Linked DNA regions of Homo sapiens: region 1 is linked to region 2. Evidence: fine-mapped QTL for protein levels in blood plasma. Region 2 holds a variant in brackets. A gene starts in the other region. All regions are shown on their forward strands.

Evidence for each region. PIP is the posterior inclusion probability: the model's chance that the variant is causal. Protein levels are from antibody-based Olink assays in UK Biobank. Linkage for the fine-mapping came from a reference panel and not from the study's own genotypes, which makes the PIPs less certain.
Region 1: HBEGF starts here. The variant in region 2 is fine-mapped to the plasma level of the HBEGF protein (UK Biobank, PIP above 0.99).

Annotation. Positions count from the first base shown.
Region 1 is chr5:140,343,008-140,351,119 of GRCh38, forward strand. HBEGF (heparin binding EGF like growth factor) reads right to left here and starts at 3,596. Exons shown (of 6, transcript NM_001945.3): 1 at 3,276-3,596; 2 at 2,904-3,077. The coding sequence starts at 3,321. RefSeq lists silencers at 3,511-3,790, 3,831-3,880.
Region 2 is chrX:67,069,384-67,077,495 of GRCh38, forward strand. No RefSeq gene overlaps it. Among named protein-coding and RNA genes, the nearest start is that of EDA2R, 430 kb to the left of the region's middle. The variant A/G (reference allele first, on the strand shown) is at 4,415.

The DNA.
Region 1 (8,112 bases), not on the chromosome of region 2:
CGGTAGGAAGTAGAAGCTAGGGTGGGTCCCAAGGAAGGCATTTCACAGTCTCTGTGTAAGAGCCTCATTCTCAGAATGCTTTTGTTGAGTAACTGGGCAATTCTACCAACCTCACCTCCACCCCACTGTCCACCTTACACCCCCATCTCCTACTCCCCCACACCCACTTCATTCTATTTTGGCCTTCAATCAGCCTCATTTCCTGATGCTGTACTCAGTGAACCACTTGCAGAAAGACAGTGTCACACACAAAAATTGCTTCTAGAGAAGGTACTTGGAGGTTCTGGGGTTGGAGGGCTCCTAATATAAGAACAGTGTCCATGTGTTCAGGTGGTCTCTTCTGGGGCACCCCTTAGTACTATGAGCCCAGGGCAGAGCCTGGCTCAGGAACAGCAAGCAGGCCAGCCCTGGTCACGGCCTTGCTTTTTCAACTTCAAGCAAAATATTTAACTTGCATACCCTTTACAGCTCACCCACTTTCTCAAAGATTCATTCATATTTAACCCCCAATGTCCTGTTTATAGCTCTCTGGATTGGGGGGTACAGGGTGTACAAGGGATAGAAAAATGGAAAGTAAGGAACTGTCCAGAAGGAACTGGAACAATGATGACTCCCTCCTTCTTTCCATGCTTCAGAGAGACTGGGGGAAAAACAGCCTCACCCAGATATCCAGCTGGGATTGACCAGGGACTATGCCTATCAGCCCAATCCCACCCTTTTATCCCCCATCAGGAAAAAGGTGCCCACATCCATGGCTACAGCCATGTGTCTTACAGAAGGGTAAGCATGATACGTTAGACTAGAGACTTAGAGTCTCAAGCTAGAGGGACTTCAAAGAATACCATGTGGCCAGGCACGGTGGCTCACGCCTGTAATCCCAACACTTTGGGAGGCTGAGGCAGGTGGATCACCTGAGGTCGGGAGTTCGAGACCAGCCTTGCCAACATGGCAAAAATCTCATCTCTACAAAAAATACAAAAATTAGCCGGGCGTGGTGGTGTGTGCCTGTTATCGCAGCTACTCAGGAGGCTGAGGCAGGAGAATCACTTGAACCTGGGAGGCAGAGATTGCAGTGAGCTGAGATCGTGCCATTGCACTCCAGCCTGGGTGACAGAGTGAGACTATGTTTAAAAAAAAAAAAAAGAAAAAAAGAAAAAACTCATGGCAGGCAGAGTGACTTACTCAAGGTCATGCAGGATTGGGATTAGAACTGTGTTCTCTGGACTTCACTCCAATGTCCTTCCTCACCACACCAAGCTGCCTCACACACTCCCATCTCCTCCCTCTCACAAGTCTAGAGCACCTGAGATGCTGATCCAGGCATGAATGGGCTCTGAAGTCCATAGACCTGTGCTCCAATTTCAGCTATTTACTGTGGGCAGTCACTTAACTCCTCTGAACCTCAGGTTCTCAGTAAAATGTGGATAGCCAAAGTAACTATCTCAAAAGGTTGCTATAAGTGTTACATTAGCCAGGATAACATATCAAGTGCCTAGAACACAGTAGGAATTTAATAAATGGTAGCAGTCATTTATTTTAGGTGGTAGGATCCCCAGACCTGAAAAATAGTCCTTGCCCAGCAAAGCCAAAAGAAGGGAAGAGAAGTAGGTGCCAGCAGCCCCCACAGTCTTTCATTTCCTCTCATCCAGTCCCAGGCCCCCTCAGAGCTCAGAAGGTGATACAGGTGGTCAGAGGAACCCAGTGACCAGAGCTTCGGGGAGAGCAAGGCAGGGGGGCCAAGCCAATCAGAAAGGGGAGGGAGAAGGTGCAGGGTGACAGCCAGGCTCCTGCCATGGACAGGGAGCAGTGAGTCAGGTCTGCAGAGGTAAGAGGAGCAGCCGTGTGGGTGGGGGGTGGGGGTGGGGTGAGTCACAGCCCAGCCCTGCCCAGCCTAGGAGGAGAGGGCCAGGAGAATCCAGGCTGTTCAGGTCATGGGCAACCCCAGAGGGCCACTGGGAGAGGATGAAGTATGGGAGCCCAGGCTCAGTTTTGGAGTATGTGCTTGATTTATACAAAGTAGAGAGAGTATCCAAGGAAAGCTCCTGGGAATGAGGGAGAAGGGCAGCTGAGGAGCAGGTGGAACTAGAACAGGTGGGCATCTGTCCAACCAAATATAGTCATTCCAGGGTACAGTGCTGAGTCCTTGCTCTACTCTGGATAATCTCCTCAGGTTTGGAGGCAGGAGAGCTGGCAGGCTCTGGACTCTGCCCTGTACCTGTACTTGGCCACAGCCAAAGAGGCTGGTTGGAGGATCCTACACAGCCCTCCCCATTTGGAGTCTCCTCAGGAATGCAAGGTGCTCAGTAAGCTGCAGGTTTCCGGTAGCATTCACAGATATCCAGCATTTTAATACAGCCCCCTAGGGGCTCAGTGCTCACCATTCACAGCCTCATCTAGGGCGGCCAAGAGCTCCTCATTCCCCTCTGTTTCCCCAATCTGGAGACAGGTGGATGGAGGAGGCCAACACTGCACACTTTCTAGAGATGTGCCTGGGCATCTCCGCATGTGTTACCTCTATTTTATATATAATAGTCATTTGATATGGGAATTAGAACTGGCGCCCATTTTTACATAGTAGCTCTAGGGAAAGCATCTCAACCATTCCTTGTTCCTATCACCCAGCTTACCTAAGAAGAACGTAACAACCCCAGACAACACGTCTGATTCAATTTGCCCCGGAGTACCCAGAAGGGCAGCAACCCAGCAGGTGAGGCAATGACAAGAGAGAGAGAGTGGGACCTATATTCCAGGATCCCCCAGTGCCCATCAGGCCGATCAGCTTTTCCCCGAGGTTCTCCATGAATACCCTCAACCCACAGTATTGCCCAAACAGCAAGAATCTTGGATCTGCTTATTCTTCAACAGCCCACCAAGGTCCAAGGATGGGGGGCCTCCACACCCACCTCTCAAAAGGTCCAGATCTGCCTCTTGCAAGTCACGGACTTTCCGGTCCCGGCCGCCTCCTAGGGGTAGCAGCTGGTCCGTGGATACAGTGGGAGGGTCCGGGTTGCTGGTTCCAGCAGCTAGCCCTCTCCGAAGCCGCTCCAGGCTCTCGCCAGTCACCAGTGCCGAGAGAACTGCGGGCGAGAGGCCAGGCCGCATCAGACACCCGCCCAGACCCCTGACCAACACGCACCGATGCCGACGCCCGTCCGCCAGAGCGCAAGGGCCCCACCAAGTGGCCCGTGCCGGGTGCGCTGCGGCGACCTTCCCCCATGCCCCCAGCACAACGCCCCCATCCCCCCGATCTCCGGGGGCGTCGGCAGCCCTCTTACCTGCAGCCAGAAAGAGCTTCAGCACCACCGACGGCAGCAGCTTCATGGTCCCGCACCGAGAGGAGGCGGCGAGGCACCAGTCACTTTCGAAGCGGCGGCCACTGGGCGCTGGCACCAGAGCTGGGCGGCGGAGCTCAGGAGATTCCGCCGGGCACCGTCTGCCGCCCGCCTCTGCGTGCAAGCCTGGCCGGGACCCAGGCGCAGCTCGCTCTTCTTGAGTGTCTTGTCTTGCTCACTCAGCCCGCCCGCGCGGCCGCCCGACCCCGCGCGCCTAGGTCAGGCCAGCCAGCAGCGTGGCCCGCGTAGCTCCTTCGGCCGAATGAGCGCTGCCCGGCTCGCGGCCGGGAATAAGGCTCCAGGAGGCGCGGAAGCTCCGCCCCGCCCGGCGCCGCCCCCTCCCTCCTCCCGTGCTGGGAAGCTCGCCCGGCTCGCGGCGCCGGCAGCGCAGCCCCCGACCCCGCGGGCGCGGCGGAGGACTGGGCGGGAGGAGAGGGCGGCGTTCACAATTTTTGGGACCAGGCCGAGGCAGCCGCGGCCTGATTGTGGGTAGGGCTACTGACCGGCAGGTGGCGGAGAGCGGTTCCTACCTTTCCCCAAACGCCTGTCACTCTGCAGCCTTGTGACTGACTGCTGAGCTGAGTTCTGTTCCGGGCCTGGCCTCTTGCTTCATCTAAGCCCCATACCAGGGGTCTCCATCCCTGTCACCCTCTAAGTTTCAGAAGCCCACCTTTTGGCCTACCAACACGGCAAGTATCAAATAATAATTAATTCATCTATCATTTAAAAATTAGACACGTGAATGCCAGCCGTTCTCATAAACCCGAGATAACCAGAGTTGAAGTTGCAGGCACTTAGTATCAATCCAGCAAAAGCAAAGGAAGTTAGTACTCTCTTAGTCTCTGGAGTGGCTTCCTCCCATCTTCCCTCAGGGGACATTAGGATTTTTGAACTATGGGTTGTAATTCCCAGGCTTCTGAGATTGGAGAGACACAGGTTGTGAAACAAGCCTTATTCTTTTCCTTGCCTTTGACTGCCACCTTTTTCCTCAACATAAAAAATGAGCCACCCTCCCATAGGACCCAGCTGGCTAACCTAGATTGCTGTTTCACAGACACTAGGTGTTTCTCTTCCAACCCATGTGCTTTTGCAGGGGTCTTCTGGAGTCACTGTCCTGACCCAAAGAAATGAGTGTCTCAGTAGGTATTTCAGTTTCCAGGGACGTGCTGGGGAGAGAGTTGTTTGACACAGGGCTGGGTTGGCTTTCAGAGCCCTGAAATTGTGCCAGATAGAGCACTTGCCGGATTCTGCCTGTGTGTAGGGATAAAAACAGGCCTGCTATTTATACACAGTCTATCCCACTGTCCCTCCCTATCCCCACCTTTGCAGGGGTCAGTCTGGCCCTGCCCTCTTAACTTGCTCCAGTAACCTAGGCCTAGGTTTCCATAGTGCACTGGAATCACTACAGACCTGAGTTTGAATCCTGCCTTTGCTACTTACTGTGTGACCTTGGACAAGAAACTTAATTTCACTGAGCCTCAGTTTTGACGTCTCTCAAATGGAAAAAATAATAACAATAATAATAATGACTACTTTGTAGGGAGCTTTTTGAGAAATGAATGCGGGAACACATAAAAGTAGTTAGTATAGTGCCAGGCACACTATAAGCTCTCAATAAATGTGACCCATTATTATTGTTGCTGTTAATAATAATCACTAAGCACTTGACCACTCTATTTCCTTAGAGGCCTCTTTTCTCTCACTTCTCTAGATCGCTTGCCTTCCCCTAGGCCATATCTGAGGCTTTATGATATAGTTGGGCTGGTTTCAGACAGAAGCTCACCTGTCACCTATTTGGCTAAGAGCCACTGTTAGATTATCCTTTTGGGTGATGAGTATCGGGCCTAGGACCTCAGTGCATGGTCACCGCCCAAGCCATGACTTTGCCCTCCCTCAGCAGCTGCCTGGCCACCTGCTTCCCCAAAACAAAGCCACCTTGGGGTCAAGGCTCTCCCCAGGGGAGGGTGGAGAGAAACACTTCCTGACACATGGTCAAATCACCCCCTTTCCCCCACCCTCGCCAGAGTCACACCCTGCTCTCTTGCCCCAGCCTGCCTTTCTCCCTTCACATGCTCTGTCCTTCCGCCTTCTCACCCCCACATCAGCCTCAGTCCCATTCATGGGGCAACTCCAAACTTTCATCACACCTGGAGCCTCACCCCAGCTAGGTTTGTGTGTCAGCCAGGTTTTACAGGAAGGGCCTGAAAAAAGAAGATAAAAAGCTTGAATTGGATTTGGGACAGTCACTTCCCCTCTCAGAATCTTGGATGTCTCTGAGCAAAGAAAAGGAATCACAATTCATGCTGAGGCAATCTCATTAACTCAATTATATCATAAACATTAACTGAACATTTTTGGGGGGCACTGGGGACATAGAAATAAATAAGACAGCCCAGGACCTGCTTTCACAGAGCTTATATTCTATAGTAGACAGGCAGCACATTAAGGAAATAAACAAGGAAAAACATATCCTATAGTGATAACTGCTAAGATGAAAGTTAAAATACAATGATGTGCTGTAGGATAATATGTTCCAGTGCCCAGGATGACACTTTAAACTGATTAGCAAAGCCTTCTCTGAGCAGGTGACATGTAAGCTGAGGCCTGAATGAGAAGAAGAAATCAGATTTGGGATCATCTATGACAAAAGCATTCCAAGATGTGCAAATAGTGCAAAGACTCTGAAATGGAAAAAAGTTGGGAGCATTCAAGGAAAAGCAAGAGGGCCAAAAAAGGAGAGATATGGGATGATATTGGAACAAAGGCTAGCAACAGATAAAAGAGGACGTTATAAGCCAAGGTAGACACTGGATTTTATGCCCCATTATTGTCAGAATCATATGAGATGTCAATGAGACAGCACTGTCATGCAGGATTCCTCCATATTGTCCCCTCCTCCTGCTCAGGTCTCCCCCACCTGCTCTCTGGATGTCAGGTTGTCAAATGCCAGGAACATAGTCCTAAGGAAGTAGAGTTCAGACAGACAAGCCTGCTTTTATTGACTGTCTATTGACCATGAGCAAACTGAGGCTTGGAGACTGATTAGCCCTGGGCCACCAGTGAGTCAGAAGGGGGCAAGTGCAGAGCAGAAACCCTGGCATCCTGCTTCCCAGCCCATGCGAGTTTCCTGGGCCTCTGGAAAGGCAGGCTCCATGGGACTCTGAGTGCTGCTGACTCACTGCTAGGCCAGAGTTCTTGATTTGGAGAGAGCACTTGCTCCCCAGTGGGGAGGACCTGGAAGAAAGCGGTGCTAGTGGTGACAATTCCCCTGTAATCAACACTGCACATGCATTATCTTGCTTGATCCTCACAACATCCCCCAAACTAGACACTGTTATCATCATCTGCATTTTAAAGGATTGAAGCTTTAAAAGGTAACATCCCAAGGTCACCCAGCTAGTGAGTGTCTCAGCCTCAATTTGAAACCCCCTCGTTCACTTGGGCTTGTGCTCTCCTAAGCTCAACACTCAAATGGATGAGACGACAGCCGCCATCTCTATGCTTCTGTGGAGGGTAACATTATCAGTTTTACTGAGTTTCAGTCCTTCATCTGTTCTGAGGGATAATAAGAAACTCTGGCTCACTAGACTGGAAGGATGCTTAGGTAAGCACAGCAGGGCAGCTAATGAAATGGATACAGTCTTGGGAGTCAGATACTTGGGGGTTCAAATTTTGTTGGTTTTTTTTTCTTTCTAACTTTGAACATGTTATTCAATTTCTCTTACCTACAGTTTGCTCACCTGAAAAGTGGGGACAATAATAGTAGTTATTATTATAGGGCTTTTGTGATGATTCAGTCAGATCATGTGTATAAAGCGGAATATGATGCCTGGCACATAGTAGGTACTTACTCAATGACAGCGGTTATTATGACCAAATTTTTTTCTTGCTTTCTTTCCTTTTTCTTTTTAAGTGGGAACTTGAATAAAATGTTGGTTTATCATGAGCTAGCCATCCTCAGAGATGAAGTGTTCCTTTCTGGGAGATGGCCATGCTTATCAAAGAGATGCTAGATCTGCAAGGCCACCCAGAGTTTTGGAAACCTCAACCCAAAAAAGCAACTCAGGCTCAGAGGTCAGAGGGAAGCTGTGCCCCCTGGGGGAGAGGATTCAGCTGCCTTCTCATTCCCCTCTGACCAGAAGTGAATCCTGCACAGCCCTTGAACTCTGCTGCGTTGGGGAGAGGGGTAAAGAAGGGCACCTCCATTAAGGGTAGGTCTGACCATGAGCCCAGAGTTACCCAAACTTGGAATGTCAGGATGAGGGGTCATTGCTTCTTGGCCCAGGCTGGCTTCTCTCACCCCATCTGAGACAGTTAATCAAACAGTTTGGGCATACAGCTGGATTAGATTAGAATTCAGGCCTGCCCTTTGGAGCCCCCGTGTACCTTCTTATGCTGGCTGGGCACCTGGAAGTAGCGTGCTTCATGCATATTCAGGGATGAACAGGCTCTGCTGTCTGATTGTTTGGGGCTAGGATCTATTTGAATAGGATGAAGGATAGGAATGGATGAGATAGGGGGAGGCTTTTGGAGGTGAGGGGGTTTCAGGAATCCCTGTCATCTCCAGAAGATGTTGAGGAAGGAATATTTATAATGTGCTGGATCCCAAACCATCCTTCTCTATTTCTGGTCCCATTTTTGTGACTTTGAATGATTAACATCTCCAGACCAAGGACTTTGCCCCTACAGCCATCCCCTCTGTGTTGGCCAGCACAGAGAGAAAGTGATTCCTCCCTCATTACACACCCATCTCTCTCTTCAAGCCTCAGATTCCTCAAGT
Region 2 (8,112 bases):
AGCTCAAAAACTGGATTTCTGAAATAAGACAGGTGGATAAGAATAGAGAAAAAGAATAAAAAGCAATAAACAAGCTCTTTGAGAAATGCAAGATTATGTAAAGAGACCAAATCTAAAAGTGATTGGTGTACCTCAAAGAGGTAGGGAGAATGGAACCAAATTGAAAAACATATTTCAGGATATCATCCATAAGAAACTTCCCAACCTAGCGAGAGGTGCCAAGATTCACATTCAGGAAATTTAGAGAAAATCAGTAAGATAATTCACAAGAGGATCATCTCCAAAACACATAATCATGAGATTCTCCAAGGTCAAAATGAAAGAAAAAATGTTAAAGGCAGCCAGAGAGAGAGGATGGGTCACCTACAAACAGAAGCCCATTAGACTAACAGTGGACTTCTCAGCAGAAACCCTACAAGCCAGAAGAGATTGGGGGCCAATATTCAACATACTTAAGAAATTCCAACCCAGAAAATCATATCCAGTCAAACTAAGCTTCATACGTAAAGGAGAAATAAGATCCTTTTCAGACAAAAAAAAAAAAAAAAAAATGCAGAAATTTGGTACCACTAGAACTGCCTTACAAGAGCTTCAGAAGGAAGCACTAAATATGGAAAGAACATTATCAGCCACTACAAAAACACACTGAAGTACAGACCGGTGACTCTATAAAGCAATGACATAAGCAAGTCTGCAAAATAACCAGCTAACATCATGATGACATGATCAAATCCACACATATCAATAATAACCTCAAACATAAATGGGCTAAATGCACCAATTAAAAGACACAGGGTGGCAAGGTGGATAAAGAATAAAAAACAAATGGTATGCTGTCTTCAAGAGAACCATTTCACTTGCAATGACACACATAGGCTTAAAATAAAGGTAAAGAGAAAAATCTACCAAGCAAACGGGAAAGAGCAAAAAACAGAAGTTGCAATCTCAATTGCTGACAAAACAGACTTTAAACCAACAACGTTTTAAAAAAGACAAAGAAGTGCATTACATAATGGTAAAGCCCTCAATTAAACGAGACAATCTTACTATCCTAAATATATACACACCCAACAAATGAGCACCCAGATTCACAAAGCAAGTTTTTGGAGACCTTCAGAGAGACTTAGACTCCCACCCAATAATATTGGGAGACTTTAACACCCCACTGACAATATTAAATATGTCACTGAGACAGAAAATTAATGAAACATTCAGGACATAAACTCAGTACTGAGTCAGGTGGACCTGATAGATATCTACAGAACTCTCCACCCTAAACCAACAGAATATACACACTTCTTATCACCATATGACATGTACACTAAAATTGATCACATAATCAGGAGTAAAACACTCCCTATCAAATGCAAAATAACTAAAATTATAACAAACACTATTTTGGATATCAGCACAATCAAATTAGAAATCAAGACTAAGAAATTCCCTCAAAATCATACAATTATATGGAAATTGCATAATCTGCTCATGTATGACATTTGGGTAAATAATGAAATTAAAGCAGAAATGAAGAAGTTATTTGAAACTAATGAGAGCAAAGATACAATATACTAGAATCTCTGGGACACAGGTAATGCAGTATTAAGAGGAAAATTTATAGCATTAAATACCCACATCAAAAAGTTAGAAATATCTCAAGTTAACAACCTATCATCACAACTAAAAGAACTAAAGAATCAAGAAATCAAATCTCAAAGCCAGCAGAAGACAAAGAAATAACCAAAATCAGAGCTGAACTGAAGGAGACAGAGATGTGAAGAAACAACCAAAAGATCAATAAATTCAGGAGCTATTCTGTGAATAAATTAATAAAATACATCATTAGCTAGACCAATGAAAATGAAAAGAGAAAAGATTCAAGTAAATGCAATCAGAAATGCTAAGGCAGATGTTACAACTGACCCCACAGAAATACAAACAACCATCAGAAAATATTAAGAACACCTCTATGCATGTAAACTAGAAAATATAGAAGAAATGGATAAATTCCTGGACACATACACCCTCCCAAGAATGAATCAGGAAGAAATGGAATTCCTGAACACACAAATAATTAGTTCTTAAATAGAGGTGGTAATAAATAGCCTATGAACCAAGAAAATGCCCAGAACCATAGGGATTTATAGATGAATTATTCCAGATGTACAAAGAAGAGCTGGTACCATTTCTATTTAAACTATTCCAAAAAAACTGAGGAGAAAGGATTTCTTCCAAGCTCATTCCATGAGGCCAGCATCACCGTGACACCAAAACCTGGCAGCAGTACAACAAAAATAGAAAACTTCAGGCCAATATCCTTGATGAGCATCAATGCAAAACTCCTCAACAAAATACTGGCAAAACAAATCCAGCAGCACATCAAAAAGCTTATCCACCATGATCAAGTAGGCTTTATTCCTGGGATGCAAGGTTGGTTAACCTTATGCAAATCAATCAATGTGATTCATCACATAAACCGAACTAAAGACAAAAACCACATGATTATCTCAATAGATATATAAAAGGTTTTTGAAAATTTTCAACATCCATTCATGTTAAAAACTCCCAATAAACTAGGTATTGAAGAAACATGCCTCAAAATAATAAGAGCCATCTATTACAGACCCACAATCAATGTTATAATGAATGGGAAAAACTAGAAGCATTCCCCTTAAAAAGTGGCACAAGACAAGGATGTCCTCTCTAACCACTTCTATTCAAAATCCTATTGGAATTTCTGGCCAGGGCAATCAGGCGAGAGAAAGAAGCAAAGACATTCAAATAGAAAGAAAGGAAGTTAAACTATCCCTGTTTGCAGATGACATGATCCTATATCAAGTAAATTTCATAAACTCAGCCAAAAAGCTTCTTAAGCTGATAAAAAACTTCAGAAAAGTCTTACAATAGAAAATCAATGTGGAAAATTTCTAGCATTCCTATACAACAACAATAGTCAAGCCAAGGGCCAAATCAGGAATAAACTCCTATTAACAATTGCTACAATAGGAATAAACTACCTGGGAATACAGGGAACTAGAGAGGTGAAAGATCTCTACAAGGACAACTACAAATCACTATTCAAAGAAATCAGAGATGACACAAACAAATGGAAAGACATTGCATGTCAATGGATAGGAAGAATCAATATTAAAATTACCTTACTTGTCAAATCAATATATAGATTTGGTGCTATTCCCAATTAAACTACCATTGAAATTCATCACAGAACTAGAAAAAAGATTTAAAAATGTATATGGAACCAAAAAAGAGCTCAAATAGCCAAAAATAACAAATCTGGAGGCATCACGCTACCTGACTTCAAACTATACTACTGGGCTACAGTAAACAAAGCAGCATCGTGCTGGTAAAAAATAGACACATAGACCAATGAAACAGAATAGGGAACCCAGAAATAAGACTGCATATCTACAAGTATCTGGACTTCAACAAATCTGACAAAAACAAGCGATGGGGAATGGAATTCCTATTCAATAAGTGATGCTGGGATAACTAGCTAACCATAAGCAGAAGATTGAAACTGGACCCCTTCCTTACACCATATACAAAAATTAGCTCAGTGTGGATTACACACTTAAATGTAAAACCCAAAACTATAAAAACTCTGCAGACAACTAGGGAATATTATTCATGACATATGCATGGGCAAACATTTTATGACAAAGACACAAAAAGCAATGGCAACAAAAGCAAAAATTGACAAATGGAGTCTAATTAAACTAAAGAGCTTCTGCACAGAAAAGGAAACTATCAACAGAGTAAGCAGATAACCTACAGAATGAAAGAAAATTTTTGCAAGCTATGCATCTAACAAAGGTCTAATATACAGCATCCAAAAGGAACTTTAACAAATTTACAAGAAAAAAAACTAACCCAATTAAAAGTGGGCAAAAGACATAAAGACACTTTTCAAAAGAAGACATACAAATGGCCAAGAATTATATGTTAAAAAGCTCAACACCACTGATCATTAGAGAAGTGTAAATCAAAACCACAATGAGATACCATCTCATACCAGTAAGAATGGCTACTATTAAATAAAAAAATGACAGATGCTGGCAAAGTTGAGGAGAAAAAGGAATGCTTATACACTGTTGGTGTGAGCGTAAATTATTTCCACCATTGTGGAAGACAGGGAGGATATTTCTCAAAGACTCAAACACAGAAATATTATTTGACCCAGAAATCCCATTACTAGGTATATAACCAAAGGAATATAAATTATTCTATTGCAAAGACACAAGCATATGTATGTTCATTGCAGCACCATGCACAATAGCAAAGACATGGAATCAACCTAATTGCCCATCAATTATAGAATGGATAAAAATTGGTAGATATTTACCATGGAATACTATGGAACCATAACAAAGAATGAGATTATGTCCTTTGTAGGGAC[A/G]TGGATGGAGCTGGAAGCCTTTATCCTTGGCAAACAAAAACAGGAACAGAAAACCAATTACTGCATGTTCTCACTTACAAGTGCAAGCTAAATTATGAGAACACATGGACACATAGAGGGGAACAACAGACACAGGCTTTTCAGAGGGTGGAGGGTGGGAGGACAGAGAGAATCAAGAAAAACAACTAATGGTTACTAGGCTTAATAGCTGGGTGAAACCAACCAACTATCTCTTGCCTTCAGGAGACTCACCTAACACATAAGGACTCACATAAACTTAAAGTAAAGGGATGGAAAAAGACATTTCATGCAAATGGACACCAAAAGTGAGCAGGGTTTGCTGCGCTTATATCAGAAAAAACAAACTTTGGAGCAACAGCAACTAAAAGAGACAAGGAAGGACATTACATAATGGTAAAAAGCCTTGTTGAACAGGAAAATATCACAATCCTAAACGTATATGCACCTAACACTGGAGCTCCCAAATTTATAAAACAATTACTAATAGACCTAAGGAATGAGATAGACAGCAACACAATAATAGTGGAGGAATTCAATGCTCCTCTGACATCACTAGACAGATCATTGTGACAGAAAGTCAACAAAGAAACAACAGGTGTAAAGTATACCCTGGAACAAATGAACTTAAAAGGTGTATACAGAACTTTTCATCCAAAAACTGCAGAATGCACATTCTATTAAATATCACATGGAACTTTCTCCAAGGTGGACCATATGACAGGTCATAAAATGAGCCTCAATAAATTTAAGAGAATTTAAATTGTATCAAGCACTCTCTCAGACCACCATGGTATAAAGCTGGAAGTCAACTAGAAAAAGAACCTTAAAAACCATGCAAATACATGGAAATTAAATAACCTGCTCCTGAATGAGCTTTGGGTGAAAAACGAAATCAAGATGGAAATTAAACATTTCTTTGAACTGAATGACAATAATGACACAATCTACCAAAACCTCTGGGATACAGCAAAGGCAGTTCTAAGAGGAAAGTTCACAGCCCTAAACATCTACATCAGAAAGTCTGAATGATCACAAACTGATATTCTAAGGTCACACCTCAAGTATCTAGAGAAACAAGAACAAGCCAAACCCAAACCCAGGAGAAGAAAGGAAATACCCAAGATCAGAGCAGAAATAAATAAAATTGAAACAAAGAAACAAACAAAAAATACAAAAGATAAATGTGATAAAAAGCTGGTTCTTTGAAAAGGTAAATAAAATTTATAGACCCTTAGCAAGATTAACCAAGAAAAGAAGAGAGAAAATCCAAATAACCTCACTGAGAAACAAAAAAGGAGATATTACAACTGACGCCACTGAAATACAAAAGATCATTCAAGGCTACTATGAACACCTTTATGCATATAAACTAGAAAATCTAGAAGAGATAGATAAATTCATGGAAAAATACAACCCTCCTAGCTTAAATCAGGAAGAATTAGATATCCTGAACAGACCAATAACAAGCAGTGAGATTAAAACGGTAATTACAAAATTATCAACAGAAAAAGAAGTTGAAGACCAGATGAATTCATAGCTGAATTCTACCGGACATTCAAAGAACTGGTACCAAACTTTTTGACACTATTACACAAGATAGAGAAACAAGGAACTATCCCTAATTCATTCTATGAAGCCAGCATCACCCTAACACCAAAACCAGGAAAGGACATAACCAAAAAAGAAAACTACAGACAGATATCCTTGATGAACATAGATACTAAAATCCTTAACAAAATACTAGCTAACCGAATCCGACAACATATCAAAAAGATAATCCATGATCAAGTGGGCTTCATACCAGGCATGCAGGGATGGTTTAACACATGCAAGTCAATAAATGTGATACACCACATAAACAGAATTAAAAACAAAATTCACATGATTATCTCATAAGATGAAGAAAAAGCATTTGACAAAATTCAACATCTCTTTATGATTAAGACTCTCAGCAAAATTGGCATATAAGGGACATATCTCAATGTAGTAAATGTCATCTTTGACAAACCCACAGCCAAGATAATACTGAATGGGAAAATGTAGAAAGCATTCCCTCTGAGAACTGGAACAAAAAAAGGATGTCCATTCTCACCACTCAACTTCAACATAATACTGGAAGTCTTAGCCAGAGTAATCTGAGAATAGAAAAAAATAAAGGGCATTCAAATTGGTAAATAGAAGTCAAATTGTCACTGTTTATTGATAATATGATTGTTTACCTTGAAAATCCTAAAGACTCCTTCAGAAAGCTCCTAGAACTGATAAAAGAATTCAGCAAACTTTTCAGATACAAGGTTCATGTACACAAATCAGTAGCTCTTCTATACACCAACAGTGACCAAGTGGAGAATCAAATCAAAAACTCAACCCCTTTCACCATAGCAGCAAAAAAAAAAAAAAAGGAAAGAAAAAGAAAAGAAAAGAAAACTTAAGATTATACCTAACCAAGGAATCAAAAGAACTCTACAAGGAAAACTACAAAACACTGCAGAAAGAAATCATAGATGACACAAACAAATAGAAACACATCCCATGCTCATGGATGGGTAGAATCAATATTGTGAAAATGACCATACTACCAAAAGCAATCTGCAAATTTAATGTAATCCCCATAAAAATACCACCCATTATTCTTCACATAATTAGAAAAAAAAACAATACCAAACTTCGTATGGAACCAAAAAAGAGTCCACATAGCCAAAGGAAGACTAAGCAAAAATGGAACAAATCTGGAGGCATCAAACTACCTGAATTTAAACTATACTATAAAGCCATAGTCACAAAAACAGCATGGTACTTGTATAAAAATAGGCACATAGAACAATGGAACAGAATAGAGAACCCAGAAATTAACCCAAATATTTACAGCCAACTGATCTCTGAGAAATCAAACAAAAAACATAAAGTGGGGAAAGGACACCCTTTTCAACATAATGCTGAGATAATTGGCTAGTTACATGTAGGAGAATGAAATTGCATCATCATCTCTCAACTTATATAAAACTCAACTCAAGACGGATTAAGGACTTAAACCTAAGACCTGAAACTATAAAAATTCTAAAAGATAACATTGCAAAAACCCTTCTAGACATTGGCTTAGGTGAGAATTTCATGACCAAACACCCAAAAGCAAATGCAACAGAAAACAAACAAAAACCATAAATAGCTGGGACCTAATTAAATAAAAGAGCTTTCTCACAACAAAACGAACAGTCAGCAGACTAAACAGGAAACCCACAGAGGGGGAAAAAGTTTTCACAAGCTATACTTCTGACAAAGGACTAATATCCAAAATCTACAATGAACTTAAAAAAATTCATAAGAAAAACAAACAATCCCATCAAAAAGTGGGCTAAGAACCTGAACAGACAATTCTCAAAAAAAATTACAATAGCCAATAAGCATATGAAAAAATGCTCAACATCACTAATGATCAAGGAAATGCAAATAAAAAATGCAATGCAATACCACCTTACTCCCAGAAGAATGCCCATAATCAAAAAATTATAAAACAGTAGATGCCAGTGTGGATGTGGTGATCAGAGAACACTTCTACAAGTGGTGGGAATATAAGCTAGTACAGCCACTATGGAAAACAGTAAACAGTGTGGAGATTCCTTAAAGAACTAAAAATAGAACTACCATATGATCCAGCAATCCCACTATTGAGTATCTAC